Homo sapiens: one gene and its partners. The protein of the gene in region 1 interacts with the protein of each later gene in a pairwise test. Each region holds a gene or a part of one and is shown in the gene's direction. Other genes may lie near its edges.

What was found.
Region 2: the proteins of PRPF18 (region 1) and BEGAIN interact in binary tests that used the Homo sapiens proteins (3 or more experiments, as listed by UniProt).
Region 3: the proteins of PRPF18 (region 1) and KRT39 interact in binary tests that used the Homo sapiens proteins (3 or more experiments, as listed by UniProt).
Region 4: the proteins of PRPF18 (region 1) and TSNAXIP1 interact in binary tests that used the Homo sapiens proteins (3 or more experiments, as listed by UniProt).

The regions. Positions count from the first base shown.
Region 1 is NC_000010.11:13,624,965-13,632,431, forward strand, and holds the end of PRPF18 (pre-mRNA-splicing factor 18), read left to right. Parts: intron 1-5,295; coding exon 5,296-5,376; 3' UTR 5,377-5,895; downstream 5,896-7,467.
Region 2 is NC_000014.9:100,562,608-100,570,679, reverse strand, and holds part of BEGAIN (brain-enriched guanylate kinase-associated protein), read left to right. Parts: intron 1-887; exon of another isoform or gene 888-1,533; intron 1,534-1,702; exon of another isoform or gene 1,703-1,757; coding exon of another isoform or gene 1,758-1,781; exon of another isoform or gene 1,782-1,989; intron 1,990-2,186; exon of another isoform or gene 2,187-2,214; coding exon of another isoform or gene 2,215-2,235; intron 2,236-2,378; exon of another isoform or gene 2,379-2,740; coding exon 2,741-2,769; intron 2,770-3,596; exon of another isoform or gene 3,597-3,755; intron 3,756-8,072. UniProt on the Homo sapiens protein: May sustain the structure of the postsynaptic density (PSD).
Region 3 is NC_000017.11:40,957,545-40,964,648, reverse strand, and holds the end of KRT39 (keratin, type I cytoskeletal 39), read left to right. Parts: intron 1-120; coding exon 121-203; intron 204-865; coding exon 866-1,022; intron 1,023-2,085; coding exon 2,086-2,247; intron 2,248-2,361; coding exon 2,362-2,487; intron 2,488-4,147; coding exon 4,148-4,368; intron 4,369-5,789; coding exon 5,790-6,048; 3' UTR 6,049-6,232; downstream 6,233-7,104. UniProt on the Homo sapiens protein: May play a role in late hair differentiation.
Region 4 is NC_000016.10:67,801,552-67,810,561, forward strand, and holds the start of TSNAXIP1 (translin-associated factor X-interacting protein 1), read left to right. Parts: upstream 1-5,337; 5' UTR 5,338-5,528; coding exon of another isoform or gene 5,529-5,598; coding exon 5,599-5,645; exon of another isoform or gene 5,646-5,834; intron 5,835-9,010. Other genes in the region: RANBP10 (ran-binding protein 10), read right to left, coding at 3,877-3,988, 4,751-4,985. UniProt on the Homo sapiens protein: Possible role in spermatogenesis.

The DNA.
Region 1 (7,467 bases):
AACACACAGAAAAAAAGACCTTCATAGAAACAGAATTATAGAGAACAGAAAAAAATTTCATTGAGAATGATAATTAATATCCTTAGAGGCCAAGCGTGGTGGCTCATGCCTGTAATCCCACCACTTTAGGAGGCTGAGGTGGGAGGGGTGCTTGAGACCGGGAGTTCTAGACCAGCCTGGGCAAAATAGATCCCTTCTCTACAAAAAATAAAAAATTTAGCTGGACGTGGTGGTGCATGCCTATTCAGGAGGCTGAGGTAGGAGGATTGCTTGAGCCCAGGAGTTTGAGGCTGCAGTGAGCTAGGATCGTGCCACTGCACTCCAGCCTGGGTGACAGACGGGTCTGAAAACAAAACAAACAAAAAAATTCTTAGGTAACGTTGTAGCCATGAAATAAGAACATTAGGCTATAAAAAAGTTTGAGAATCAAAATGAACTCTTAAAAATTAGCAAAAATTTAAATCAGCAAAAATTTAGTAATTACATTAGTGGGTTAGAAGATAAAGTTGAAATATGAAAAGCAGGAAAGGTAAGAAAATAAGAGTCAATCTATAACGTTTATAGCCATTACAACAGAAAAGGGAAGATAGGAAATAAAGAATTAATGTAAGAAAACGTCCCAGACCTGAAGGACGTGAGTTTGTAGAATGAAAAGAATTCACTTAATACAGCGCAAATGAATAGGAAGAGTTCACATCAAGGCACAAAAGAATGCATGTTGGAAGGCCAAAGCTAAAGAGAAGATTTCAAAGACTTCAGAGAAAAGGTCGCTTACAAAGGTGCAGGAATTAAAATACTGTCATACTTCTCACTGATAGCACTAGAAGGTAGAAGACAGTAGAGCAGTACCTTTGCAATAGCTAGGGAAATATTGTCCAACTCAGAATTCTCTTCCTTTCTGAACCATCAAGTGAAGGGTAAATATAGGCTAATGACATCTCCCATGCACACATTCTCTGTAGTCATTATCGTCATAGCTGACACTTAAGTAGTGCTTACTGTGCTTCCCTTCAGTACTTTACAGCCACAATATGAGATGGACACTCACATTTCCCTGTTTTGTAAGTGGGGAAGAGGCGTAGAGAAGTGAGTTCTCAAGGTCACATGGCTAGTCAGTGGTAGAATTGGGATTGGAATGTGGGCAGTCTTGACTCTACCTGAGGATGTCCTCCATCCAAAGAAAAAGATCCAAGAGCTGAGATCCACCACAGAGCAAGGCGAGAGGAATCCCCAGGCTGGAGCTGCAGGGATGTCATGCTCCAGGATGGTAGCAGTACAAGTGGGTCCAGGTTAGAGTAGATGGTTGAAGGACTCCAGGAAGAAATGGAAGAGCTTATATTCCCTGGCATGTCTGATCAGATCCTGAGTGATGTTTGGGCATGTGAGGGTAGTCTCATGTTGGAGAATGGATTAGAAAAACAAAACAAAAAGGGGAAAAAAACTTATGAGAGGTCATCATCATAATATGTTATGTGGGTTTGCTTTGAACGATATTTGTGTAGCCTTTATAAGGAAAACCCTGAATATTGATTTCACTAAAAATGTGGTTTGGGGAGGATGTGGGAGAAAGTGCTTTTGAGGCGTGTGCGTGCATATGTGGGGCCAGTGGACAGTGGTGTAAGAGTGAGATATCCTCTGCTTCATAGTAGGAAGTCAGGAGATATCACTAATATCTGGTGGAAAAACCAAGCACTGTCAGTATAGTATTTAGAAATGTGGCAATAAATGCCAGAGGAAACACTTAAAACGTTTGAAAAGGGTTGCCTGTGGAGAGCTGGAATTAGGATTTGGAAAGAGTGAGGTAGAGGACTGCTATTATTTGATACAAGAATCGTGTGATTTTTTTTTTTTCCCCTCAAACAGTGTACACAGAAAACCCGGAATTATCCTTGGCTTTTTTCTTCCTGTCACAACCCATATCCTATCCATGTCAAAGCTTGATGGTTCTATATTCAAAGTATGTCTGGAGCCCGATCCCTTCTCACCACCTTCCTTGCTGCCACTGGGTCCAGCCACCACCTCTCATCTGAATTATTCCAGTGTCTTCTCTCTGGTCCCTGAGTTTCTCTTATTGCTCCTCTCCAGTTTCTTAGCAGCATTCCCCAGACTGATCCAGTTCACATACAGTCAGATCGTGTTGCTCTGTTGTTCAGAACCCTGCAGGGGCTTCCTAGTTCACAGAGTCCAAGCCAAAGTCCTTCAGGTTGCCCCACACGTCCACTTACCCCACTTGCCTGCTTTATTTTCTCCAAAGCACTTAGCATCGTTGAAAATTTTTTTTTATGAATTTATTTTGTTTCTTGCCTGTCTTCCCTTACCACAATTCGATCTCAGGAGGGTGGGATTTTTTCTGGCTTCTTCGCTACTGTATTTCCAGAGCCTAGAACAGTATGTATAGTAGGCACTGAATAAACATTTGTTAGATAAGGGTATTGCCTTTATATAAATAAAAAGCCAATTAAAAATACCACAAGTTTTTAAGCCATTTGCCATAAGCTAAGCTAAGCAGCTCATTGTTTTACTGGCTTAAGCATCCATAAGCAGTTTGAAACTGAAATCCTGAGGGGTCTAATTGAAAAGATTTGTTTCCATCTGGAAAATAACGATATTCTGTCCTGAGATTACACACCTATCTCTGCCATGCACTCTCAAATCTTTTTTACAAAAATGTATCATACCGCTCTGTGGTAACTACTTATGACTAAAACAATTGAGTTTCACAACCCTTGGCAGCTAAGATTTCAGGGAGAACACTAGTATATGTTTTTAAATCATAGAATCTGCTTAGTGAGTATAAATAGGCATCACACACGTCTTCTGTAAGGAGCACACACCTAAGATTCCAATTCTTCTGACATGGGGAAAACCACCTCCAAGGCAAACCATCAGTTTGCCTTCCGCTTGCGCATAACAATTCTTGCCATGCTCTGCTGCTGAGTGAAGCTATTTGTATTTCATCAGGGTGTTCTCTTGCCTGACTTTGCCCCTCTTCTCACCTATTCCTTCAGGAACCTTAAGATGCCAAATTAGTGCTATCATCTATATTTCCATGGCTACCGATCAAAGTTCTGCATACACATGATTAGAATTCACAGCAGGATAAGCTGGACTATGTGATGGAATGGTCTTTATCCCAAAGCAAATACCTGATTACACAGGGAACAACAACAACAAAAAGGAGCCAAGTGAATGACGTGTGCAAAAGCCCTTCTTGTGAATCAGTTGAAAGATAACCTCCCTCCACACCCCTAATTCCTAAATCTCATAATGTGGGCAATCCTTGAATCCACCAAGGACTTTAAATACTTCACAGTCTTGTTTCTCTGATGTGGAATCTGTTAGATTATGGCTCCATTCATAGAAGTATGTCATTTGTCCCTTAATATCCTCAGGGATTGGTTCCAGGACCCTGCAGATACCAAAATCTGGATGCTCAAGTCCCTGATAGAAAATGACATAGTATTTGCATATAATCTATGCACATCCTCCTGTATACTTTAAATCATCTCTAGATTACTTACAATACCCAACACAATGTAAATGCTATTTAAATAGTTATTATATGATATTTATTTGTATTATTTTTAATTCTTTTTTTGTTGCCGTTTTTTTCTGAATATTTTTTAACCAGGGTTGGTTGAATCCATGGACACATAACCCATGGATACTGACTGTGATTAATATTTGTGTTGTCTGCTTACTATGGGACCAATGAGATTTTGCAGGGATTTTTGTGTTGTTTGTTTGTTTTGGTGATTTTATTGAGCTTAACAGGTGTTAAGTTACGTAGATTTCAGTAAGACCTTTGGCAAAGTCTTTCCTTGTAAACAAGGAAATGTGTGTGTTAATGAATTGCACAGTGAATAGGATTCATTGCTGGTTACAAACTCTTCCCAAGATCGTTTTGGAGAGAGCTCAATCGTGGTGTGTCTCAGGTCTCTGCCCTTGCCCTGGCCTGTTTGCGCACGGTATTGAGTATTTGGATAATGACTTAGAGGACATGTTTACCGAGTGGTGGATGAGAAAGCTAAGAAGAATAACTAAAGCTAAATGTCGACCAAGGATTCTGAAAGATCACAGACTGAAGGATGAGTTGAAAGAGACAGGATGAAATTGAATAGTGATAGTTGTTTTCATCAGCTTAAAAAATCTAACTATAAAGTTATACACTGGAGAACTGGCCAAACTGCTGTAGAGACAAAAGGCACTTGAATTTTGTGAGATCGGTGGGAATTAGGTGTGTGTATTGTAGTTGTCTAAAAACAGCTAAGGGTCTTGGTTACAGTTGCCAAGATACAGAACAAAAGTAGTGCAGTGACTACTTCTAGTGAATTCTGCAAGAATGGCCAGGTCACGCTTGGAATGTTGTACTCAGTTTTTACTGACATATTAAAGTGGTTTTATTGTGTAATATTTGGTACATACAAAAGAATACATGTAAAACACAAGTTATAAAGTAAGTAATAAAATGAATGTCTAAAAGCCTTACTCCCAGTTTAAGAACTAGAACATTCTGAAAACCATTGAAACAATATTGTCCTTCCATACTCCAGAAGTAACCATTACCTTGCACTTAAGTTTGTCATTTCCTTTCTTTTTGAAAAACCGTTCCACCATGTTATATGTGCATTTCTAAGTAATACATTTTTTACTTGTTTTTGAATTTTATGAAAAGGATGTCACTGAAGGTAGTAACACTTCATGCCACTTGCTTTTTACTTTCGACATTGCTTCTAAGATTCATATACATCGGCCTTTCCCAACCAGAGCCCCTCATCTTGACCACAGAACACAGAAAATAATTGGAGTGTATTTTCTCAGTCCTCCAAACATGATACATAAATAGTCTCCTAAATTTTAGATGCATAAGGGAGAAGTTATCTCGTTACATACAATGGATGCCTTAGGCTGGGCATTTGGAGCTTAATTCTCTATTGGAACCTGGTTGAGACTGGCCGAATTGTTACATGTAGCTAGAGTTAATTCATTTTTACTGCTGTAAGATATCCCATTTGTGAGCACACTAAAGTTTTTTTCATATGTCCTCCTATGGATGGAAATTTGGGTTGTTACCAGTTTTTTGGTTTTGTTATTGTGAACAGTTCTGTGATGAACATTCTTGTGTGGACCTGCAGGTGCACAAGAAAAATTTCTCTAGGCATACATCTGAGTGAATTTGCTTGGGTCTGCTGCATTTTATGGGGACATTGACAAACTGATAACGAGTTCAGAGGAAGGCAGTTAAGAATAATTTAACCATGTCATAACCAACCTTTGTTTTCCTTATTTTCTTAGGGATTGAAGAGGTTAATGACCATTTGCCAGAAACACTTTCCTACAGACCCATCCAAATGTGTGGAGTACAATGCACTGTGAGATCTGTGTATGGTGTGTTAATAACAATAAGAAACTTAGGGAAGCAGGCTGTGGACTTCTGGAATTACCAACAGGAATGAGGAAAGAAGAAAACTGGAGTTTCCAGTCTCTGAGTTCTACCTGATGTAACTCTTGATTGGTTTTAAGAACTTTGTTGGCCTTCATTTCATATCTGACTGCAAGCTGATTTTTCTTTCTTGCTTTCATTTTAATTAGTCCAAAATTAAGTTTTAAAGATTTTTCCTCACAATTTAAATCCATAGACAACAGAAGGGGGTTTAAAATGACCTTTTTTTCAGTTGACCCGAAAGTTGTGGTTAGATGATTAAAAAGAAACATTTGAGGATGGACTTAATTATTTCAGTAAAATATTATAATTTGCCTATTGTCTTTTATGTAATATTTATATAAAATATTTTTATATATTTCAAAAACATGGGACCATTGAATGAAACTTTATAGTCCTTAAATGTTGCTGAACTTTTGCTGTCTTGCAATAGAATTTGAATGTAAATATTATTACTGGTATAACTCAAATGTTATTTTTCTTGCATTTCAAAGCTTGCTTTTATCTTCCAAGAAGTGTAAATTTTAGTATTTGTCATCTCTCAGGACAGATACAATTAATAGGAAATAGAAGTTTGAAGAAACAGAGATGGCACATCATAGCAAACTAAGTTCAAAACAGAATAACCCCAGTGCATCAAGGTTAAGGTGGGACAGTGGTTTGTGATGCCAGGGAGAGTGGGGAAATTGTGATGATGCTGGTAGACCTGGGCAGACTGTGTTCCCAGCCACACCCGCCAACAGAGGAGGAAGGTGCTGGTACTGATGTCCCCACCCGAGAGTCTGTCCTGGCCTTGGTTTTCCACAGTGAGGGCTCGTTCTAATGTTGCACAATGTCATACTCAGATATCACTGTGACCTGTTACTATGCTTTAGAACCCGAGAGGCCTCTGTTCACATGGCAGCATGTGTGAGTGGATGCTCCCGGAGCAGGTGGAGTGGTGGCGCTGGATAGCGGTAAGAGCGGGGGCTCCAAAGGCAGAACTTCCAGCTTCACATCTCAGCTCTGCACCTGCTCGCTGTATGACTTTAGCAAGCAACTGGATCTTTCTAAGCGTCAGCTTCGTTGTCTTAAATGGTAGTTGGTAATAATAGTCCATGCTTCGTAGCATCACTTTTGTGTTCAAGCAGAATGCTGAGCACACTGGCAAATAATAAGAGCTCGTAAATATTAGTTGTTGTGTCACTGTTGTCATTAGAGGGAAGCCAGAGTCCCTTTCAGGAGCCCTGTGTTTAGGGGCAGTGTGTCCTCACAAAACAATAACAGTAATAATGATGGTGTTAGCAGCAACAGCAGTAATCATGGAAACGTTGATTAAGCATTTACTGTATCTGAACCCTGCGGCTGTTCCTGCTTTCAGCCACTTCTGCATTGAGAAGGGCCGGGGATGTGGTGGAAGCTAGATGTCACCAAGTAGGGGGATGTAGATTCACAGCGGTCTATTCTGGTTCCTCTTGGGAGGTTCAAACCTTGGGGAGGTTCAAAAGCCAGTTTTGGCCACTTGTGCTCTTCTGCTGTGCCTAGACAGGATCGTTTCTGATGGTTATATGCATGGTGGTGGCTGAGGTCCGCTGTCTGGAATTGAATTGGGGTTCCTTGCCTCCCACTCCCTCATTTGGAAACCTTTTCTTGTTATTAAATCAGTTAGAGGGGGCCAGGCGCGGTGGCTCACGCCTGTAATCCCAGCACTTTGGGAGGCCGAGGTGGGCAGATCACGAGGTCAGGAGGTAGAGACCATTCTGGCTAACACTGTGAAACCCTGTCTCTACTAAAAATACAAAAAATTAGCCGGGCATGGTGGCGGGTGCCTGTAGTCCCAGCTACTCGGGAGGCTGAGGCAGGAGAATGGCGTGAACCCAGGAGGCAGAGCTTGCAGTGAGCCGAGATCGTGCCACTGCACTCCAGCCTGGGCAACAGAGTGAGACTCTGTCCCCTCCCCCCCGCAAAAAAAAATCAGTTAGAGCTTAGTGTAACTTACCAGCGCAAGTGAGAGACAGACTTTCGTAAGATATGACAGCAATCTA
Region 2 (8,072 bases), on another chromosome or scaffold:
GCCACCCATAAAGATGCCTGTGTCACTCCTGCATGGAGAGCATCAGGCACAACCCATCTTTTAGTCCCCCCGCCCCTGCCAGGTGCTGGGCTGGTCCAGGGACACAGAGCTGGGACACAGAGTCCTGTCCCATCTGGTGTGGGGGTAAACTCAGTGACTCCCCAGAGTTCCCACAGAGGGCCGCATGGAGGATACAGCCTCCAAGGGGGAGGGCAGTGGTTGCCCCGAAGGCAATGGGTCAGAGGAGGATTTGAGCTACAGCAGCATCAAAGCCAGGCTTCAGGCTCTAGAATAGGCTTGAAGGGCAGGGGCTGCCTGTTCCCTGCCTGTCTCTTGCCCTGCCCAGCCCCCACTGCTCCACCAGGGCAGCTCAGCAACCTCCCCTGCCTTTCCCCCCAGTTCCCTTCTGGGGGTGGGGGGAATTCCCATCCAGGCCTTTTAGAAGGGCTGAAACATTCAATGTAAATAATTAATGCTAGATTTTTAAAATTAAATTTTAATACATTCTTATTAATTTTAGACAAACTCCCTGGCAGGTCATTCGCCGTGAGTGATTGAGGTTGGCAACCAGAGACAGCCTTTGGGTGGGAAAGGCTCCTGAGCAGTGGGGTCCAGGCGCAGCTGGGCCCCTTCAGCTGCGGGATCTCCAGCAAGCCTCTTCTCTGTTGGAGCTTTGCTCCCGCATAGGGGGTCCGGGGCTTCCATGGCAGAGCTGTGGTGAGGAGCCGTGGGAAGCGCTATGATGTGTAAGGGGCGGTGGACGTTATTGTTATGACTACCGTGGCCATTCTGCTGAGGGTGGCCTCCCAGGACCGGAGGGGGGCGGAGGGGGTTTTCCTCATTAGCCCCTGGAGAGCAGAGCTTGCTTCCTCTGCTGTCCCCTCTCTGCTTTGTCTGCTGTCCCCTCTCTGCTGGAGAACTTAGCCCAGAGCTAGTGAACGAGTGGGTGTCCGTGGATGGAGGAACACTTGGATTTCTTGGGTTTGGTTTGATCCTGGTTCAGGTCTGACCCTCTGAGTGGACGGCTCCTCCCACCCTGCGCTGGCTCAGCGCAGGCCAAGCCTGCTGGGTGCTGGGGGTGTCCTGGTGAGAACACAGGGCTCCTGCCCGGGAGCTCACAGCCAGGAGGGGAAAGGGCCAGGAAAGACAGGCTCCAGTGCCGTAGGATCCAGGCATGCACTGTCCGTGTTTATTGAGCGCCTGCTGTATGCTGGGACCTAGCATGAGAAGCGCTGTCATGGGGACCCGGAAAGGTGGGCCTGGGGAAGAGAGCGGTGTGGGGGTCGCGCTGGCCGGCGGCAAAGTCTTCCCGGCAAACTCCTTGTCTTGCAGGAGGAGGGTTTATGGAGGGGTCCAGGCTTGTGGTCTTGGACAACTTTTAGAGCGTCTGGGGAGGGGAACCGCCATCCGGGCGCCTTAGGGATCCCTTCCCCTGAAATTCCTTCCCCCACCCCAGCCGATCCGCAGCCCGCGGGTGCGGAAGGGCAGTGGAGCGCCTCGTCCAGCTGCCTCCCCCTTCCCCCCAGCTTTCAGGTGAGGAAACTGAGGCCGGGAGAGCGCCGGAAGGCCGGCCCGAGCACCCGGGAAGTTGGTGGCCGAGCCTGGCCGAGGCCCCGGGGCCGGGCCTTCTAGCTTGGCGCTGCGGCCGGGCTGCGCCCTCGCCCGGCGGGGCGGTGGGGGAGGCGGCGTGGGGCCCGGACCCGAGCGGAGCGCGCTCCCGGCGGACGCGGCGGCGGCGCCCGGCGCGAGGGGCCGGGATGGGCAGTCATCAGTCTTCCCAGGTCTGTCGCGTGGTCCCTGAGCTCGGACCCCTGTCCCCCTTGAGTGCCAGTCACGGCACAGAAAGACGGGCAAAGCCCCGGGGAGCGGCCTCTCCCGGGTGATAGAGAGCCCGCCCGGCGCCCCCAGCTCCACGCAGGAAGTGCGATCCCGCCCGGGCCGCTCGCGGTCCCCGTCGCTCGCCCGCGCCCACAAGGTTAACGGCGGCGGGTGGGTCCCCCTGCCCGGCGCGCGGAGGGGCTGCCCGGCTGAGCGGGGCTGGGCAGGGAGGGTCTCCAAGCCGCGCGCGGGCGGGTCTGCGCAAGCAAGGCAGGGAGCCCCGCCGGCGAGCCGGGCGCTCACGGGTTAATCCCTGGGGCCCGGGAGGGGCAAGCCAGGCCCAAAACCCCAGAATCTGAGGGCAGCGGGTCCCTGATTGAGGAGTCGAGGCTCCAAATGCCATCGCCCTCGGATTGTGTGAGTGTCAGGTTCTGCAATCCTGCACGGCCCCGAATTCCCCAACATTCTCCGACTCGGAGGTTCTGCGATTCCGGGGTTCGGCTTCCTCCGGGAGGGAGCGCGGGGCAGGAAGGGTTAACGGGCGGGGCGGGGGGAGCAGCGGGGCCGCGGCCGCCGGAGAGTTAACGGGGACAGGCCGAGTCCCCCTCCTCCGGGCGAGGCCGAGATCGCCCCTGGCCGGGCCATCCCGGGCCGGCCCCTTCTTCGCCCCGGGGGGCGTAACTCGGTGCGGGGAGCGCGGCGGCCCGGGCGGGCTCACCTGTTACTCGGCCGCGGCCCGGCGCGCCCACTGAGTCACGGGGGCCGCGGCCGGGACTGGAAGCTGGGGACGCGCGGCGCCGGGCTTCCCACGGACGGGGCCCCGCGGGGTTGCCCGGCCGTGCCCGCTGTGCCCGGCTCTGCCCGGCGCGGCCGCGGAGCGCACGCCTCCTGCCTGCTGACCCTCTCGTTTGGTTTCTCGCAGGCCTCTGCCGCAGACATGGAGAAACTCAGGTGAGTGGAGCGTCTCCCGTGCCGCGGCTCGCGGGGGCCGGGTCGGGGGTGAGGGCGCTGGGGAAGGCGGGGGAAGGGGGCTCCACCCGAGCGCATCCCCCAGGGCCCGCGGGCGGCCTCGGCGGGGCTGCGGGCCAGGTGCGTGTGTGTGGTGCGTGTGTGCGCGCCGCGAGGCGCTGGGGAGCCTCGCGCGGGGCTCCTCCGCCGGCCCGGGCCGCTGCGGCGGGGGCTGGGGCTAGCGCCACTGAGGGCCGGGCTGCCCCCTACCCGGGGCCGCCTGGTCCTGTGCGGTCCTCAGCGCCCCTCTGGCTCCCTGCCCTGGACTCTCGCTGGTCCCCGGGGACCCTCCGGGTTCCGTTCGTGCCGTTCCGCACTGCCCCGGCGCTCTCTCCCCCGACCCCACCCCACCCCCAACCACCACCCGCCCCAGCCCCCGGGCTGCCAGTTGCCTGGCTCTGAGCTTTTAAGTGTCCGCCTCTGGGGGGCGGGGGTGGGGGATGGAGTCCTCGCGGCTGGACCAGGCAGCCGCGTCTTGGAGCCATTTTGGGGGAATCCCGCGACAGCTTCTGGGGAGTGTCCCCCGCGGCCTCCCTCCCGGTGCCAAACTTTAAGCCTTGGTAGACTTCACGGGACCACCTGCGCGGCAGGCCTGGGATCAGCCAGTTTGAATATTTGCCACTTCCTCCACGACTTCCCCTGGCACCCTGACCCCTACTTTGGGAACACCCCTCCCGTGTTTTCCTTCCGGAGCCTGAGCCGAGGCGTTGTGTGGGCGGCAGGCCCAGCTCTGGCTGCTGGGTTTCAGCACTGTCTCCCCTGGCCCACAGGGTCTCCGTCCTCGCCACTCCCTCCCGAGGCCAGAATTGGCATCCTGGGGAGGAGGCCGGGTAGAGGAGCATCCCTCCCCCAAGGAGCAGAGCCCAGCCTGGGCCCAGGTCTAGGGCAGAGGGGCCCTGGGCTCTGCCAGCTGACCCTTAGTGCCGTGGGTGAGTGGCTTGGAAACACCCAGGTGGGAGCCTGGGGGCAGGTGGGCTCACACAGAGACCCAGGGTGGACTCTCAGAGCAGGGCCATCTCCTGGGCCATGGAGCTGATGTGCAGCCCCCACTGTGGGTCCCACAGGGACAGGACCAACATGTCTTGTGCTGGGAGGAGGGGTCCAGTCTCTGAGGTGGTTCAATCTCAGACCCCAAATACCTGATACCCATCAGCCAGGCCCACCTTGTCGTGGCCAAGGTCCAGGTGGGGGCGGTGAGGCCCAAAGAGCGACAGCCCTGGCTGTGGTCACACAGATGACCTCAGGCCCAAACTCAGGCTCTGGCCCAGGCCAGGGCCCTTCCCTGGTGCCCCACATTGGCTGTCATTTCACCACCTGGGTTGTACCGCCTGTGGGGGGGAGGAAACACTGCTTAACTCAGCTGAGACTTGAGGAAAAACTTAGCATTCATGGGGTGCCCTGAGGCCAGCCTGGGGGTTCCCTGCGGTGGTTCTCTTTCTCTTTCCCTCCTTCCCTGTGCCCGGCCAAGGCTCTCCGGCACCTATTCCTGTGTGCCAGGCACTGAGGACAGAGGCATGACCCCGCCCGGCTGGGTGCACAGGTAGGCAGGTGTGCCAGGTGGGCGGATCTGCTGCCTGAGCTGCTGATGGCGTCAGCGTTGCTGTCCCAGGCGGGCTGAGGCTTCCCTGGGCTAAGCCATAAAGGCTGGAGGCAGTGGCCAGGGCCTGGGCTCCTGGGCTGCATCGGGCCATGTGGCCTTTCTGGAGTTGCCAGGGGTGGCGTGGGGCAAGGACTCCTAGAACTGGGGAGGGGTCCTGCCCTCCTCTCCCTCTCACCCAATTAGTGTTCTCAGAGTTGCCTGAAGGGCTTTTCCAGAATCTTCCCTTCTGGCCAGTGTCGGGGCTGCCCCAGTGGGTTTCTGTCCTGCATTTGGTGCCTGGGATTCAGAACCAAAAGCCCAGGGGAGTGGAAGGGAAGTTGGTCAGCATGGCTTCCTGCACAGAAGGGCACAGGGTTTGGGGTCCCACAGACCCAGTCACTGACAAAGTCCTGGCCCTGGTTGGGCCTCAGTTTTCTCATCTGTAAAGTGGGTGTCCTAACCACAACCAGGTTGCAGGGATGTTGGGTGCCGTGAGCCCCTGTGGTGGAAGCATCTCTCCTGGGACCTGGCCCAGAGCAGGCCCAGGTAGAGGGTCTCTGGGGAACCTCAGACCACACGGTGGTCACAGTGAAGGGGTCCTGAAGTGTCCACAGGGATGACCCTATGGTCGGTCCTGCCTCCTGGCCCCTGGACTGTGGAGTCTGCACATCACAGGCTGGGTCTGTGGGTCTGGATTGAGCTCTGAGAGTGCTGGTCCTGGCCCCCTCCTCTCCCACACCCCCCAGGGCCTGGAGCCAGGACTGACTTATGGGACAGTCCTGTAAATATTTGCTGAAGAGCAAAAGGACCATGTCACCTGGTGGCACTGTGGCCCTCAATGGCTCCCTTTGGTGGGCAGGTGTACATTGAGGGGTCTCTCTTCCCTGGTCCCTCCCACTGGCTGCCCCCCCATGCTGTCGCCCTGCTTCCGAGTTCCCCACAAGCTGCCACCTTCATGCCCCTGCCTTTGCCCACGCAGTCCCTGCTGTAGAGAATGCCCTTCCCTGCCTTCTTGTCCACATGACAAACTCTGTGTCTTCCCTGTCGCCTTTTCCCTGGGGTTTTCATGACGCTCTTGCCCCTCCCTCCCAAGTGGACTCCAGCCCCCTCTGGGTACCAGCTCTGTGAAAAGACCCGGTTGGCCCTCCAGTGCCGGGGACAGAGGCCCACAACAGATCCTCCTAGGCCAGCGGACAGAATACAGAAGGGGTTTGCCCACAATGCTCTGGGGTCCCAGGTTGTGAACCCTGGCCTGGGGTATTGGGAAGAGCTTCCGGGAAGCAGGGACACTTGAGCCAAGGCATGAAGAATGGGTAGGAGTTTCCAAGGACAGACAGGCCACCCTCCAAGAGGTGCAAAGGCCTGGGGGCTGCCCAGAGCAGATGTGTTTAGGGAAGACAGGTAAGGGGTGGGGAGTGGAGGTCAGTGGGGCTCCCACTGACATCTGGGGTGTCTTCTGTCTTCCCCAGGGCCCCAGATGGGCACCCCAGAGAACAGAGCCGGGGTCTGGCCCCTGGTGTTCTGACAGCCACAGTGCCTGGCAGAGGCTGGCGCACAGTAGGGCTCCCACAGGCCGGGGGGCCACATGGTAGATATGCAGCCACACCATTTGATGGCCTGGCCACCTTGGCTCTTGTCCTTTGACCCTTGCTCAGCCACACTCAGCTATCTTGTCTTCGACTGCTTGGAAAAACTATTCTTGTGACTCTCAAATATTTATAGATATTACCAAGTCCCGGCTGGCTCTCCGTGTGCTCAGAGCCTCTGTGCCTCTAATCCCTCAAATTAATCCCCTCCTCTCCCTCCAAACAGGGTCCCTCCTGCCTGCCTCCTGCAGCGTGCTGCTGGGCAGCCCCTTTTTCTATTTGAGCTTCGGTTCCCTCCTCTGTCAAACAGAGAAGTGGGTCAGTCGCCTCTCATGGCTCCTGGGGTGCCCAGAGCTACTCCTGTTTGGTGTCCACGTTTTCCCCCCAAAATAGAATTTTTCAAAGTCGTGAACTGTGATAGGCCTGCAGAGACATTAATAAATATCCGCACAGTTCAGTGGTTAAGTTTAGAACGACCACCTGGCGACCACCACCTGTGTCAAGGAGTTCAACATGGCCAACCCCCGAGATCCCCCGAGACCCTTCCCCACAGACAGCCCCATCCTGCTCCCGGCCAGCCCCTAAGATCCCCCGAGACCCTTCCCCACAGACAGCCCCATCCTACTCCAAGCAGTCACCGGGACACCGACCTTGTGCTCAGTGGTTCCTTGCTGTCCTCGTGGTTCTGCCACCTGAGAGGGCATCCCCAGCAGAGATGGTTGTATGTTGCCTGCTTTGGGACCTCATACCTGGATTCCTTCAGCCTGTGTTTTGGGGGTGGCTTTTTTTCACCAAAACTATTCTGTTTGTGAGGGTCCCTTGTGGTGGTAGGTGGAGCTACCAGTTGCTGTTGTCATGGTGGCTTCCCTGAAATCCGTTTGTTCCCTGGCAGACTGCCGGGCACTGTGCAGCCTGGGCCACCTTAGGAAACTCCTGTGCGGGTGTCTGGGGATGTGGGCTGCGATTCTGGGTGTGCACCCTCAGTGGAACCTCCGGGGCACAGGGTGCGCATAGGGTCAGCTCTGGAAGATCGGAACAGACTCTTGAAACCGCTTCTCCCCATCACTGTCCCTCCAGCGTTGTTGGGGTGGGCTGCCCTGGTTTGCTGCCCGCTGGGTTTCCTCACCGGCGAAGGCCGTGCGCATTTTCTACCAAGGTGTTTTTCCCATTGATTTGTGGGAGCTCTTCACACTGTCAGTTACACATGCAGCAGCCACACCTCCTGGGGGACGCCGCGTCTCGCTGTTCACACGGTCCTTCTATGAACAAAAGTTCTTAATTTTAATTTTGTTGAATGTGTCAGGTTTTTTCACTTTCTGATTAAAGCGTTTGTGTCTTGTTTAAGGAACCCTCCTGAAGAACTGAGGCTATTGGCTTTTCATCCACTTGAACTTGGGTTTGCATGTGGTTAGAGGTCAAGGTTGAGCTCCTTTTTGGTTCTGGTTTTGGTTTTGCACAAGGACACCCAGGTGTTCGGGCCACACTCTCTCCTTCACTCCTATGACCGGTGCTTGTGGTCCTGTCCATGTCGGACACTTGTCCAGGCTGAGACACTCTGCAGAAGTGCCAGGCTGATGTCCCAGGGATGGAGACAGATGGAGAGCAGGTGGCCTCGAAGGTCCTGACCCTGTCCTGCCCTGCCCCTCCACGCCCCCCCTCAAAGGGCACCCTCTCCCACCCAAGTCTCCCGCGTGGGCCCCGTGAGCCGGCCCTGCTGCTCTCATTGTTCACTGATCATGGATTCCACACGCATTCACTGAGCACCAGAGGCTGCTGTCGGCGCTGAGGACGCCGCAATGACTGCACAGGCGAATCTTCTAGTCGGCGGGAACAGAAAACTTTTTAAGTTAAATAAATATCACGGTGACAAGTGCTGCGGGGACAAAAAGAAAGGAAGGCAGTGAGTGGGGGGCGGGGAGCAGGTGACCTGTACAGCGTGGCTCAGGGAAGGCCCTGAGCGGGTGCCACCGGGTCAAGGCACCAGGAGGTCCAGGCAGAGGGAGCAGCAGGTGTACCGGTGGCCTGCAGGAAACAGCAAGGGCTGGTGGCCATGGAGGAGGGCAGAGGTGCTGCGTTCTGGA
Region 3 (7,104 bases), on another chromosome or scaffold:
GATTAATAAAAAGTCTACTTAGCCTTCCCCTGTTACTTGACACACACACAAACCCCTTGGTTCTTAAAGAAGGAAATCTTGGTGTTTGCTTCATTTGTGTGTACAATCTCTTAATTCTAGATCTTGTGTACCAAGGCCGAGAATTCCAGACTGGTCTCGCAAATTGACAACACCAAACTGACTGCAGATGACTTGAGAGCCAAGTAAGCCCACCCAACACCGTCATCAATGACAGAGCTCACCCTGAGTCTGACCGAGATGCCCTCAACAAAATTGTCCCCATGTCTACTAACCCTCTTGCCCCAGATGATGTTGGCACAAGCCCAGAAAAGACTTTCAAATTCAATGAATGATTAAGATTAATAACTGCTCACATGTATACAGTACCTATAGTTTCTAACTTGTGAACCCATTTGATTACCTACACAATAGTTCAGTAAAATAGATAGGACTAATATATTGTTACTCTCTTTAAGGTGAGAAATCTGTGGCTTAGTGAGGCTAAGTTACTCACCCAAAGGTAAGCATAACTAGCACAAGTCAAAACCGAAACTTGGACACATGTTTTCTGAGCCCTAATCCAGTGCTTTCTTCACTTACATTGCATTGCCACTAGGGGCAGAGGAAGGACAATAAATTCCCATATCTCAAAGAACAGCAATGTAGATCCCCCTAGCAAACTAATTTGGGAATAATAATTAAGTTATGATCTATATCAAATGGTTTCACCTCCAAAGAGAATAAAACTTCTAATAGAAATACACTAAGTGAGGTGCCCAGAGCAAAATGCAGATGAGAGTTCTGCTTGGCTTGGTTTGCATCATCTCCTTTCAGATGTCTCTCTTTTCCCATCTGGTTTTTAAAGATACGAAGCTGAGGTGTCTCTACGCCAGCTGGTAGAGTCAGATGCCAATGGCCTCAAGCAGATCCTGAATGTGCTGACCCTGGGCAAGGCCGACCTAGAGGCACAAGTCCAGTCTCTGAAAGAGGAGCTCCTTTGCCTCAAGAACAACCACAAAGAGGTGAGACAAAGACCAATAGAGTAATCACAAGCTAAGTCCCTAAAAGTAGCATCAGTTCCTTTGAGTTGCACCTGACAAAGGGTGTGCCCGCTTGTATTAGTTCGTTCTCACACTGCTATAAAGAAATAACTGAGAGTAGGTAATTTATAAAGGACAGAAGTGTAACTGAGTCACAGTTCCACATGGCTGGGGAGGCCTCAGGAAACTTACAATCATGGCTTAAGGGGAAGCAGGCACATCTCACTTGGCAGCAGGAGACAGAGAGAGACCAAAGGGGGAAGAGCCCTTTATAAAACTATCAGATCTTGTGAGAACTCACTCACTATCCTAAGAACAGCATGGGGGACACCACCCCCATGATCCAATCTCCTCCCACTAGGTCCCTCCCTTGACACATGGGAATTATGGGAATTACAATTCGAGATGAGATTTGGGTGGGGACACAGAGCCAAACCACTGCTACGTACTACTCTGGTTTAGCCCTGAAAATACCTACTGCTACTAGCACTGGTTCAAGGTAGTATTTCAAATCCACTGGCTCCAACACAATATCTGGAGCCATAAGGGGAAGAAAGGCCTCCAACATCCCCTCCAGCTTTTCTACAAGAAGGAACCCAATTTTTCTGTCCTTACAGTCTTCCCATGTTTGTAGGCATCCCTATACAGGCTTCTGCCACCTCCCATTGGTACAAGTCAATATTGGTGCAAGTCAATATTGGCACAATCCCGTATTTGCACCATAGAGACTATAATCTCTCATGATCAATTCCACCTTTATCCTGTTTCACCCATTATCCAGCCCTGGAAATGATCTAAATTTTTTGGAACTCTGGTCTTGCTACTCATTTTTTTTTAATTTTGCACACATTTAAACACACAGTCCTACCTGAAAGAGTCTTAAATCATTTTATAGCATCTCAATAACACCTGTAAATCATGTATTCCTTTGTTGTGGGCTATATTTTAGACACAATTAAGCTAAATCGTAGCAGTTAGAGTGAAACAAGAACACAAAGGGGTTATCTGTTCACCAAGTGACTTCACAGTCTTTTTCTTTCCTTAGGAAATCAATTCTTTACAGTGTCAGCTTGGGGAGAGACTTGACATTGAAGTGACTGCTGCCCCTTCTGCTGACCTAAACCAGGTTCTACAAGAAATGAGATGTCAATATGAGCCCATCATGGAGACAAACCGCAAAGATGTGGAACAGTGGTTCAACACGCAGGTGGGGGATATAGAAAAGTCAAAAACAATAAGCTGATGCTGCATTTCTAGGGCCCTTTAATCAAAGTCATGTTTTCCTCCCATAATATTCTCAGTCTCTGGCTGTGTGTTTCAGATAGAGGAGCTGAATCAACAAGTGGTGACCAGCTCTCAACAGCAGCAATGCTGCCAAAAGGAGATCATAGAACTGAGACGCAGTGTGAACACTCTGGAGGTTGAACTGCAGGCCCAGCATCGAATGGTACTGAGCAAGCTGACCAAGCCTAGCTCAGCAAAGATGGAAACAGTCCCTTACACCTGTGTGCTGCAGTATTTCCCAAACTGTGTCTTTCAGAACAATAGTTCCTCATTTGTTAAAGCGTCTATGGCTGAAAAAGAGCTTTGTGGCCAAATAAGTCTACGAAACGCTGCACTAAACCAAGGTTAAACAGGGTGCCTTCCTGTGAGCCATTAATAAGCTAATATACACCATGAATCTCCAGGAAGGGGGTATATGGTATTCAGCATTCCAAAACTTATTTGACTGTGGATCCCCCCACTTTTTTTAGAACATCTCATGGTATTAATGATTCATGAAGTACACTTTGGGAAACACTGGGAGAGCATTTTATTATATGCAAAGCATTTTTACAAGCTATCACATGAGATTTATAAAGCAATCCTAAGAGGGGGGGTGGCATAATTATTAACGAATGTTACAGATGAGGCTCCAAGAGCTAAAGTGATTTTCCCAAGCAAATCCAAGGTAAGTTTCAGCCCACCTATTTTATAGAGACACTGAGATCCTGAGACATTAAGAAACTCATCCAAAGTCACAAAAGAAATAAGAGTCTGAGCCAGAGTTTAGATTCCAAAGCCAGTATCATTCTGTCTCATGATAATGCCTCTCTGAAGTAGAGAATTGCTTACATGCTCTGATGTGAAGGCTTTTGGGAAGACCTTGCCCCACACTGGTTTTGTCACCAGCTAGTCATGTGACCTTGGACAACATATTGAACCACTTGAACCTCAGTTTTCTCATCTATAAAAATTGGGATAATCATGCAAATAATAGGCTATTAAAACCTAAAATCCCATCATTATCCATAGACTTACAGAATGATAGAGCAGGAATGAAATTTACTCATCAGTTTCAACTTTCATATTTTACATATAAAGGAATTGATCTGGTGGATAAATTGTATATGGTAAAACATTGCTTCCTTCCTTTTTTAAGACACGAACACTCACTGAATGAAGTGCCATGGTAATGCTTTTTTTTTTTTTTCTTTTTGAGATGGAGTCTCACTCTGTCGCCCAGACTGGACAGCAGTGGCACGATCTCGGGTCACTGCAACCTCCACCTCCCGGGTTCAAGCAATTCTCTGCCTTAGCCTCCCAAGTAGCTGGGATTACAGGTGCCCACCAGAACACCCAGCTAATTTTTTGTATTTTTAGTAGAGACGGGGTTTCACCATCTTGGCCAGGCTGGTCTTGAACTCCTGACCTTGTGATCCACCCACCTGGGCCTCCCAAAGTGCTGGGATTATAGGCGTGAGCCACTGCGCCCAGCCAGTAATGCATTTTTAATGCCTGGGTGTGCATTAAGTTATTATTTTTTCTCTCCTAAGTAGGAAAGTGTGGTGCGAGACTATTGGTTGGTCAAGAAAGAGAAAGTGAAACAAATACTTACAGAGAAGCAAAAAGAGAAAGAGAGAAAGAGGGAAGAGATAAAGGAAAGCAGATTTTAGCATAGTTGATCATTTGGGTTTTGGATTTATTTGATTAGGAAACAATAAATAAAGTGCTTGGAGATCTATCAGTAGTGTCACAAAGAAACCATTTTTTTTAAATGATACAGGTCACAGGTGACCTGGGCTTAAAGGAGTCATTATAAATCCTACTATCCTTCTCCATGGTAGAGAGATTCCCAAGAGTGCATCCTAACGGAGACAGAGGCTCGCTACACGGCCTTGCTGACCCAGATCCAGAGTCTGATTGATAACCTGGAAGCTCAGCTGGCAGAGATCCGGTGTGCCCTGGAAAGACAGAACCAAGAATACGAGATCCTGCTGGACGTCAAGTCCCGGCTGGAATGTGAGATTACCACATACCGCAGCCTTCTGGAGAGCTCGGATGGCAAGTATGTAAAATAACAGCAACTTCTATGACAAAAAAGTGTAAATGAACGCAGATATATGTACTGCCACTGGCAACAGGGGTCAAGTGCTTTGTTTGACCTTCTTGCCAGTGATGGGGAGCTTGGACAGAGGCATCCACACACCCTCTCAAGCTGTGCCATGAGGAAGACTTGCAATTGTAACCTTATCCAAATTTGAGGCATTGGCTGACCTGAGCTGTTCTGAAGAGCCCATGGGCCAGGTTAATTTCTTATAGGTTGCTTACCTTCTTAGAGTTTTAAAAATTACTAGAGAAAAAATTATTTCCCCATAGATGAATATTCCTGGTGACCATTACAGATGTTTCCCCACTGAGATGAACGTCTGATTTTCATGAGCTTGTACAAAACAACCCAGGCTCCTTTGGAGGAACATTCTGCTCAGGCTGAAACCCCTAACCCTATCTAGCCACTAGTCCTTGAGGCCAACAGAAGCATGTACACATGTATGTTTTAGCATCTTTTTTAAAAAATAAAAGTTATAATTTTTGTAAGCAATAAGAAGCTAACCAACCCATAAGTAAACATATATGGAGGATGAGTTCTTTGAAGCAACTCAGTCCAAACTAAAACCCCAGAGACTTAGTTACAATTGCAAAGGAGACCTACTTCCCGAAAATAATCAGTGAACTCTTCACAGCATTCTTTTAATTGGCATGACCACATTATGTGAGCACAATGGTCATCAATGCTGTCACCTTTAGGAGCTGTGATCATATACCAAAATACCTCGAATCATCAAAGAAAGATTATGTTTATAAAAAGAGTGTTTACTATGAACTGCTTTTTACTTCAGTTCTCTAAAAACTATGCATAGACAGCCAGAAGGCACTTTGAAGCTTCCTGATGACACAGTGAGGACTCTTTCATAGCTGGGGTTCAGGCCACCACTATTAGTATGACTAACTCCTCAATGAGAAAAATATCTGGTTAATTTCCATTCCTCGGATAATAATGCCCTCAACTTGTTCCTTATCACTGTTGATCCTGTGGGTTTAGTTTCCATTATATCCATTCTGCAGATGAAAAACTAAAGGTTGAGTGCGTTAAATGACTTAGCTGAGGTCACCAGCTGGTAAAGGACAGAGCTGGTCTCTGCCTCAGTCTTTTGACTGCTAGTGCAGTATTCTTTCCACAATGTGATGGTATTGACTAATGGAAACTTACATAATCGAATACTTCTAAACCTAGGATGCTGATTTCCAATGGATTTAATCTGATTCTTTTTCTTCCAGTAACTACAGTACAAAATAAATGAATAAGCATTTAGAAGTATGTACTTGTCTTGAGCAACACGTGTTAAAAAAATTAGCCACAATCATTTTTCTCCATGACCATCATCGCCTTCCCTCAATCACAGCTAAAATTGTGTTTTTTTTCCTTAGGCGTCCCTGTTACCCACGTGCCACCAAATGTGAGCCTTCCCCTTGGACATCTTGTAAGTCCGGAGCCATAGAAAGCACGGCCCCAGCTTGCACATCCTCATCCCCCTGCAGCTTAAAGGAGCACTGCAGTGCCTGCGGACCCCTGTCCCGGATACTGGTTAAAATTTGCACCATCACCAAGGAGATTAAGGATGGGAAGGTCATTTCTTCTTACGAGCATGTGCAGCCTTGTTTCATCATCAGACCTGCCAAAGTCTAACATCCCAAGGTGATGAAAATGACCCACATTTATGAAACAGAGGCCAATACATGCTCCTGCCAGAGAGGTTTAAGAAAACTCCCCAGTCCCTTAAGGTACTTAGTTTCTTACTACTACAGCGGGTCCCCATTGCTAGGTAGAATATCTTTTATTCTGCTCCTTCCCTAACTCACCACTGCTAACATGATAATAAATTACATTTCTCTGGAAGGATGTTTTGCATTTATCTGAGGGATGGGAACTGATTTGTAAGCACCCAGGAAGATGGCCTACATTGCTTGACTACCCAGGTGATTGATGGGCAGGTCTCTCTCTTGTTTACTCAGGCCTTGTTTACCGACATTCCTCCTTAGAGCCAGTCAGACAAGTTTAGGGTTGTTTTTGGCCACCGGCACCTGAAGGTGAAAAGCTACAACCTTCCCTTCTAAATGTCTTTGGATACAGAAAGAAACATATATGGGAACAGTATAAATAGGGGAAAAGATCTTTAATATTTAATTCACTTGTGTAGATAGTCACGAGTATGGATCCTATTAAACTCTGCTGTCTTAATTATGATTTATCTATACTAACATACTTTACCTTTCCAAAGATATTTTTTTAAATGTCCATGGTCTCCAAAACTTTGTGACCTATTAGGCTCTCCAAATATTTTATTTGAGAATCAGATAAGTTGTGGGGAGTGAATCTAGAACACTTTGAAGAAATAGCATGGGTCTTTTCATTAAACATTTGCTATTTCTCTTTCTATTCTTTAGGGAATGGGAGTTTGTTCTGATTGTTTGACAAGGAACATTTAGCTGGAATTCTCAAGAAATAACCCTTCTTCCCCTCCCTGTGAAGAGTGACAAAGAAAAACATAGCTTAGATTCCTGCTTCAATCTATCCATCAGAGTAAATGGACATAATATCCACACATTTTGCAGAAAAGCAATAGTGAATAATTGCTGCTTGTAAGTGCAAGGCAGTCCCAATGTGAGAAGGCATCATTTATATACCAGCCATCATCACAGCTTCTTACAGGATAGTCTCAGAATATGTAAGTCATTCCTGACA
Region 4 (9,010 bases), on another chromosome or scaffold:
CCACTTGCCAGAGATGCTGTGAGGATCAAACTAGGTAACACAGGAAAGCTAGACAACCAGTTAATGCTTGGGTCATGGACTAAACCAGGATAAAAAACACACCTCCAAAATCCATGGGAGGCTGACAATGGTGGCTCCTGCCTGCAATCCCAGCACTTTGGATCACTTTGAGGCAGGAGGATCACTTGAGGCTAGGAGTTGGAGACCAGCCTAGACAACACAGCAAGATCCCATCTCTATAAAATAGTTAAAAAAAAAATCAGCTGGGCATGGTGGCTCATGACTATAATCCCAGCACTTTGGAAGGCTGAGGTGGAAGAAATACTTGAGCCCAGGAATTCAAGACCAGCCTAGGAAACATTGTGAGACCCCATCTCTACAAAAAATAAGAAAATGAGCCAAGCATGATGGCACACACCTATAGTCCCAGCTACTCAGGAAGCTGAGGTGGGAGGATTGACTGAGCCCAGGAAGTTGAGGTGGCGGTGAGCTGTGATCATGCCATTGCACTCCAGCCTGAGCAACAGAGCGAGACCCTGCCTCAAAAAAAAAAAAAAAAATCTACAAAAAAAGGGAAATGAGCCAGTTGATGTCTGCCTGCCCTGTGTAACTGCCTTTGGCCTCCTCAAAACCCACCTGGCCCATACTAACATGTGGCTGCATCCCAGCCATGGGAAGGCTTTCAGGGATTCCATAAAGAGACCATGAGGAGCTATTCATACTCTTGCCATCTGACAGTGGTCAACTGAAGCAGGATACCACAGGTATACATGACCTGAGACCTTTCTAAAACTGATGTTTCCTTGCTGGGCACCATGGCTCATGCCTGTAATCTTAGCACTTTGGGAGACTGACGCAGGTGAATCACCTGAGGTCAGGAGTTCGAAACCAGCCTGGCCAACATGGCGAAACCCCATCTCTACTAAAAATACAAAAATTAGCCAGGCGTGGTGGCGTATGCCTGTAATCCCAGCTACTCGGGAGGCTGAGGCAGGAGAATCACTTGAACCCAGAAAGTAGAGGTTGCAATGAGCCGAGATTGAGTCAATGCACTCCAGCCTGGATGATAAAGGAGACTGTGTGGCAAATAAATAAATTAATTAATTAACATCTGATGTTTCCAGATCAGCTCAACAGCCATGTTTACCACATGTAAAATGCTGGGAATAGATGCCCACCTTTCTTTAGACTTCCAGTCAACACCTATAGTTCACCAATCTAACATGACACAGCAAGATCGACTAAAACTGAAATGTTAAAACCAGTTGAAAGAATCCAGATCTCCAACATAGCCAGACCTCATCTCTCAAAAAATACAAAAAGAAAAAAAGAATCCAGGTCTCTAAGTGTAAACACTTCCCTTCTGAAGTTGGTCTCTGCTCTCTACCTAGATAACTAACTCAGCTGTTATCTATGATAAAGACTAGGAGAAAACAATCCATTTTCCTCCCTACAAATTTAAGAAGTGCACTTCAGTTTCTGTGGCAGTATGAGACTCCAGCACCACCATTTTAGTCAACATTATTTTCAAGGTGCTTGTTTTAAGGGGCTATTCTCATTCACACTAGTTCAAGCACACTAAATATATGTGCTTCTATCAGACGGTGGAAGGTGAAAATAGGAGCTTTGAAGCCCTCCCATAAATTTAACTTTCCTGTCTGTAAACGCACTAGATGGGGATAAAAATGAAAGATGGCCGGGTGCAGTAGCTCATGCCTGTAGTCCCAGCAGTTTGAGAGGCCAAGGTGGGAGGATCACTAGAGACCAGCCTGGGCAACATAGCAAGACCTCATCTCTACAAATAATTTAAAAAATTAGGCTGGGTGCGGTGGCCCACACCTGTAATCCCAGCACTTTGGGAGGCCAAGGCAGGCGAATCACCTGAGGTCAGGAGTTTGAGACCAGCCTGACCAACATGGAGAAACCCCATCTCTACTAAAAATACAAAATTAGCCTGGTGTGGTGGCACATGCCTGTAAGCCCAGCTACTCAGGAGGCTGAGGCAGGAGAATTACTTGAACCTGGGAGGCGGAGGTTGTGGTGAGCTGAGATTGCGCCATTGCACTCCAGCCTGGGCAACAGGAGCAAAACTCCGTCTCAAAAAAAAAAAAAAAAAAAAAATTAGCCAGGCGTGGTGGCATGCACCTGTATTCCCAGTTACTCAGGAGGCTGAGGTGGGAGGATAACTCGAGCCCAGAAGGTCGAGGCTGCAGTGAGCTGTGATTGTGATCTTGCCACTGCACTTCAGCGTGGGAGACAGAGCAAGACCCCATCTCATTAAAAAAAAAAAAAAAAAAAAAGAGAGAGAGAGAGAAAGATACAGCAGCTTCCCATGATCAGAATTTCAGAGGCATAGAATTCTGGAGTTCAGGCAGCTTAGATGCTGGCCTGGATCCTCACAGTGCAGATCAGGAGACTGAAGCTCCAACATCTACCCAAGACCACAGAGACCTCTCAGGCAGAGAAGTTACATCACTGAGGAAGTAGGCAAGGCTCTGACTCTGGCAGTGTTGCCCCCAGCCTAGTCCCTTGGCCAAGCATTTTGCATGCACTACAAAGGGGACAGTCCCTAGGAGAAAGAAGTTCTGAATGTTCGAGAACACACCCTCAGCGTTGGCATGGTCACCAGAGGGGTTGGCAAACTTCAGACACCAAACCTAAAGTCTGATGAGGAAAGCCTTTCCAAGGTAGCTGCAGTCATGTTACTTCATAACTTACACACCTGCTTCGTCACAATCACTGGGAAAAAAAGGGAGACTGGGAGAAAGAAAAAAAATTAAGTATCTCCCCTATGATTTCCTGTGTCTGCTTGGATCATCCTAAAATAGGGAGTCTCCCTAATGCTGACTTTTTTTTTTGTTTGGTTTTGGGACAGAGTCTCACTCTATTGCCCAGGCTAGAGTGCAGTGGTGCAATCTCAGCTCACTACAACCTCCACCTCCCATGTTCAAGTGATTTTCATGCCTCAGCCTCCCAAGTAGCTGGGATTACAGGTGCACACCACCACACCCAGCTAATTTTTGAATTTTTTTTTAGAGATGGGGTTTTACCATGCTGGCCAGGCTGGTCTTGAACTCCTGATCTCAAGTGATCCGCCCGCCTCGGTCTTCTGAAGTGATAGGATTACAGGTATGCCAGTTAATTTTTTTGTATTTTTAGTAGAGACAGGGTTTCAGCATGTTTGCCAGGCTAGTCTCCAACTCCTGACCTCAGGTGATCTGCCCATCTTAGCCTCCCAAATTGCTGGGATTACAGGCGTGAGCCACCGTGCCTGGCTCCTAATGCTGACTTTAATGAGGACCTTCCTAAAGTTGATCCAACTAGTAGTGTTCAAGTCCTTGGACTGAAAAACAAGTTTATGAGCAGCAAGGTCACCTGATTCTGATCATGTGTATGCTGTTTACCCTGAGATGACAGGCCGGTGGCCACAGAAGCTTTCATGAATGCTGCAAAGACTCTACTATCTCTTTGAAGGCTACCAGGGCCTCCACATGACTAAATGCCATAAAAAAGAACCTCATGAATACAGCAAGAATGTGAAAGGAAGGAAGTCACAAAAACACCACATGCTCATGAGGGAAACTCCATTCTGGACACTAAATTTTTAAAGTAAACTTGTTACTTGTTTGCCTAACCTTCTAGGTATCAAATTACATCATCACTAAAAATAATCCCTGCTTTACCCCCAACACACCCACTGGCCATCAAGATCTGCTGCTTAGACCAGACCATGCCCACAGTCAGGAAATAATGGCAGCCCAGACCCATGCGGCTCCCCAGCTCACATCAGCAACAAGTGCCAGCCAAAGGACCTGAACTCTGACCACAGGGATCAGCTCCATGATCAGGGAAAGAGGGTGGTCATGAAGGGCTTACCCATCTCTTCCTTTGCTGACAATCTTCACTTCAAAGTAATAAATGCCACAGGCAGCAGGTATGGGGTGGGTGGCACGCACTGAGGCCGCATCTTTGTGATTTTTGCCATGACCTAACAGGAGAGGGCAAGTAAGAAATTTCAGCAGAAGGAAATGCAAATGGAAGCCTCATTTTTCTCTGCAACTCCTCCATGACAACTCCACTCCTCTGTGGCCAGAGGACGCACTTACACAGGCCGAGGAATCATTAGACAACTGAATAAACACTTAAACCTTCCACCTTTGCCTCACCTCCTCCTGAGAACAGCAGTCCTGCCTGAGACACTGCCCATACAAACAAAACAAGGGTAGAGGCAATGTGAGAGATACTCAAGTGCTGCTGGCAGCCTCTCTAGAATCCAGGCAGCCCACCTGGGAGGCCAGGGGAAGAAGGATGAGGCCGACCTGGAAGACACCCCCCAAACTCTAGCACGGAACCCCAGGCTCAGTCTAGGATGCCTGGCAGGTGGGGAAGCCCATGAGTCTCACGCTAATGGTAGGTATGTGACCACCCCTTTCTTCTAAGCAGTGGCGAAAGGTCCCGCTGCCGTTGGCGCCAGCCTAGGATAAGCACGGAGGCCCTGGAGTGGAAGGTCCGGCCCAGCACTGGGTTTGGACACCTGTTGCGGTTCTCTTGACGGCAGGTGTCTCAGGACAGAGAACAGGCAGTCAGCCCTCGGCCTGTTCAGCCTCACCACCCTGGACATCCTGAAAGGGCCAAGCCCTAACTTGGAGCACCTAGGCAGGGAAAGGGAGGTGATAGGGCGGGGGCCTGGCAGCAGAGCCACCCCACGGACGCTCTAGCCTTAATTCCCCCCAGCCTGACGGGCCGATACCTTTGTAGTGGACGCGGAGGTTGCCCTGGGAGAGACCAATGTAGTTGTATTTGTCCTTGGGGCTCCAGGAGCGCGGCAGCGGAGTCTCTTGCTGGTTGACCGCGGGATACAGGCGCTGCAAGCGCCGGCTCAGCTCCTGCTCCCCAGGGGACGGCAGCCCGCCCCCAGCGCCCCCGCCGGAGGAGTCCCCAGGCTGCGGGTTCCCAGCTCCCGGGTCTGCCGTCGCTGCCGCCATCTTGGAGGGAGCTACTATTGTGTCACTGGGGGCGGGGAGGAGCGGGACCAGATCCGCCCCGCTCAGCCAATGGCCCGTGAGCCTCCCTGGGCCGCAGGGAAACCGAGTCCGAGTCCGGCACCCCTCTTTGGACACTGACACGCCTTACCACATTTCGAACTCCATACCCCACAATGCAGAGCTCTCGAGAGGCGGAGCAACTCGGGCTGGTAGAGAATTCTGGGAGATGTAGTATAACCGTCCTCAGCCATAAGCCTGTCCCATCGAGACGTCGGGACACCGAAAACTACCATTCCCGCCGGCAAAGCGGCTCCGGCCTCTCAGCACACTTCCCTCCCCATGGCCTCTGTTCATCCCCCTGCCTCAGTTCTGGTACCTGGGGTCAAATCGGCTGTAGTGGTTGACTCTCAGGGCACCCGCTGCCGGGTCCCAGTCCACCTTTGCTACTTTGTCCTACTCCCAGCCCGCGGGCGCTAGGCTCGGGGGCGTGGCGCATCCCTGACTCCGCCCCCGCCGCGGGGGGGCCTCTGGGGCCTGGTCGCCATGGCGACCGGCTGTACGCTACCACAGCTTCCCAGGCCGCGGGTGCTGATTGCCCGCCTGCCCGTGGGTCATGGCCTGCCAGCAGTCGCGGTACCACAGCTTCTCGTCCGCGTCGAGGTAGGCGCTGGCAGGGATGAGGGCAGAGATGAGGGTTTGAGTACTTCTAGAGAGGGAAATGGCACTTGATCCGGACCTCTGCACCTCCTGCTGGCCTCTGACCATTGATCTAGGGCTCCAGCACCACAGAGTCAATGGTTAGAATCGGGCTGATTTAGCCCAGTGAAGACGTTACGTGCTAGCAAAACGGTAGGCGCACTTTATCATTACTAGTAACAACCAGCTTGTATTGAATGTACTATATGCCAAATGCTTTATATACCACATTTTTAAATATTTTATTTTTGAGACAAGATCTCGTTCTGTCGCCCAGGCTGGAGTGCAGTGGCACTACTACGGCTCACTGCAGCCTCGACCTCCCGGGCTCAAGCGATCCTTCTACCTCAGCCTCCCGAGTAGCTGGGACTACAGGCATGCGCCACTACGCTTGGCTAATTTTTGGGTGTTTCTTTGTTCGTTTGTTTTTTGTAGAGACGAGGTTTCACCACGTTGCCCAGGCTGGTTTCGAACTCCTAGACTCAAGCGACCCTCCCACTTCGACCTCTCAAACTGGGATTACAAGCGTGAACCCCCACACCCGGCCTACGTACCATATTTAATCCTCACAACAACTGTATAAAGTAGTAATATTACCATTGAACAAGTAAAGAAATACTTTAGAAGCCTGGAGAGATCATCCTCTGGGTAGCTTCTGCCTGTACTCAGGTGTATAGCCTCTGGGTACTGCAAAATATGACCAGCTCCATCAGCCTGGAGAGCCATACATACGGATTAAAACAAAAATTTTGGCTAAATCGTTTTCTAGTTTTGGGACTTCAGACAGGGCCCTTCAAGTTCCAGGCCTCAGCTTATATATCTCAAACATGGGAATGATACAGCCCACCCCACAAACATTGTTGGGAACATTTAGGCAGAATATGTGAAGCTCTTGACACAGCTCTTGTATGTAATAGGCACCCAGTAAGTGTTGAATGAATGTAGTGTCCCCCCTTCTACTCATTCCCAGTGGGGGAAAAAAAAAAAAACACCACCCAATCCCACCTAAACTCTTCAGGGTCTGCTGCCTTGACAGAGAAAAGCCTACAAAAGCCCCTAAGAGGCCAGGCACGGTGGCTCACGCCTATAATCCCAGCACTTTGGGAGGCCGAGGCGGGGGGATCACTAGGTCAGGAGATCGAGACCATCCTGGCTAACGTGGTGAAACCCGGTCTCTACAAAATACAAAAAATTAGCCAGGCATGGGGGTGGGCACCTGTAGTCCCAGCTACTCGGGAGGCTGAGGCAGGAGAATGGCATGAACCTGGGAGGCAGAGCTTGCAGTGAGCCGAGATCCTGCCACTGCACTCCAGCCTGGGCAACAGAGCGAGACTACGTCTCAAAAAAAAAAAAAATTTAGCCGGGCATGGTGGCAGGCACCTGTATTCCCAGCTACTTGGGAGGCTGAGGCAGGAGAATCGCTTGAACCAGGGAGGCAGAGGGCAGAGGTTGCAGTGAGCCAAGATCACGCCACTGCACTCTAGCCTGGGCGACAGAGTGAGACTCCGTCTCAAAAAAAGAAAAAAGAAAAAAAAGGAAAAAGAAAAGAGAGAGAGAGAAAGAGAATTGTTACCCAGCACAGGATTAATTTAGTAAACTGCCATTCTCTATGAAAAGGATATGAAGCAGACCCAGAAAGAGAATCCCCATTCATTTTAAGAAAGAAGCACAGGGCTGGTCATGATGGCTCATGCCTGTAATCCCAATACTTTGGGAGGCCAAGGTGGGAGGATCACTTGAGGTAAGGAATTCAAGACCAGCCTGGGAAACATAGTAAGACCCTGTCCCTACAAATAATAATAATAATAATAATAAAAGTTTCAGCTACTCAGGAGGCTGAGGCAGGAGGATTACTTGAACCCAGAAGTTCGAGAGGGTGTAGTGAGCTGTGATCACACTAGTGCCTTGTAGCCTGGGCAACAAAGCAAGACCCTGTCTATTAAAAAAAAAAAAATGGCCGGGCGTGGTGGCTCACGCCTGTAATCCCAGCACTTTGGGAGGCCAAGGTGCGCGGATCACGGGGTCAAAAGATCGAGACAATCCTGGCCAACATGGTAAAACCTTGTCTCTACTAAAAATACAAAAATTAGCCAGGTGTGGTGGCTTGCACCTGTAGTCCCAACTACTCGGGAGGCTGAGGCAGGAGAACCCAGGAGGTGGAGGTTGCAGTGAGCCCAGATCATGCCACTGCACTCCAGCCTGGCAGCAGAGTGAGACTCCATCTCAAAAAAAGAAAGAAAATCAGCCAGGCATGGTGACCTGTGCCTGTAATCCCAGCTATTCTGGAGGCTGAGGCACAAGAATTGCTTGAACCCAGGAGGAGGAGGTTGCAGTGAGCTGAGATCTTGCCACTGCATTCCAGCTGCCTGGGAGACACAGCAAGACTCCGTCTCAAAAAAAAATAAATAAATAAATAAATAAATAATACAGGCCGGGAGCAGTGAGTGGCTCATGCTTGTAATCCCAACACTTTAGGAGTCTGAGGTGGGTACATCATTTGGGGTCAGGAGTTCAAGACCAGCCTGGCCAACATAGTGAAACCCCATCTCTACTAAAAATACAAAAACTAGCCAGGCGGTAGTGGCATGCACCTGTAATCCCAGCTACTCAGGAGGCTGAAGCAGGAGAATCGCTTGAACCTGGGAGGCGGAGGTTGCAGTGAGCCGAGATCGGGCCACTGCACTCCAGTCCGGGCAAGAGAGTGAGACCCTGTCTCAAAAAATAGTAAATAAATAAAATTTAAAAAAAAATACAACATCATTAATCTACCATATTCCTTATTCACCAGCATTTAGTGATGTTGGGCCAGACTCACTGTTTCTCTTAGAGACACTGTGGATGTCCTCATCCTTTCCCTTTAAAAAGGGGCAGCATGATGGATAAGCTAGACCTTAGCACTGTGGAACATGTCATCAGGACCCTCTGCAAGGGACCTTCGAATTGTGCATTTTCCTGGGGCAGGTTTCTCCTCCCTATCGGCTTTTCTCCTTTCACCCTCATAACCCTGGCACTTGGTGGATGGAACTCAGCAGCTTGCGTTCACTGAATACCAAGATATAACCCTGACAAACCCACTGCCTACTACCACTTAAATAACTGAGCTTGAGGCCGGGTACGGTGGCTCACGTCTGTAATCCCAGCACTTTGGGAGGCCAAGGTGGGCAGATCATGAGGTCAGGAGTTCGAGACCAGCCTGACCAACACGGTGAAACCCCATCTCTACTAAAAATACAAAAATTAGCCGGGCTTGGTGGTGCTCACCTGCAATCCCAGCTACTTGGGAGGCAGAGGCAGGAGGATCACTTGAGCCCGGGAGGCAGAGGTTGCAG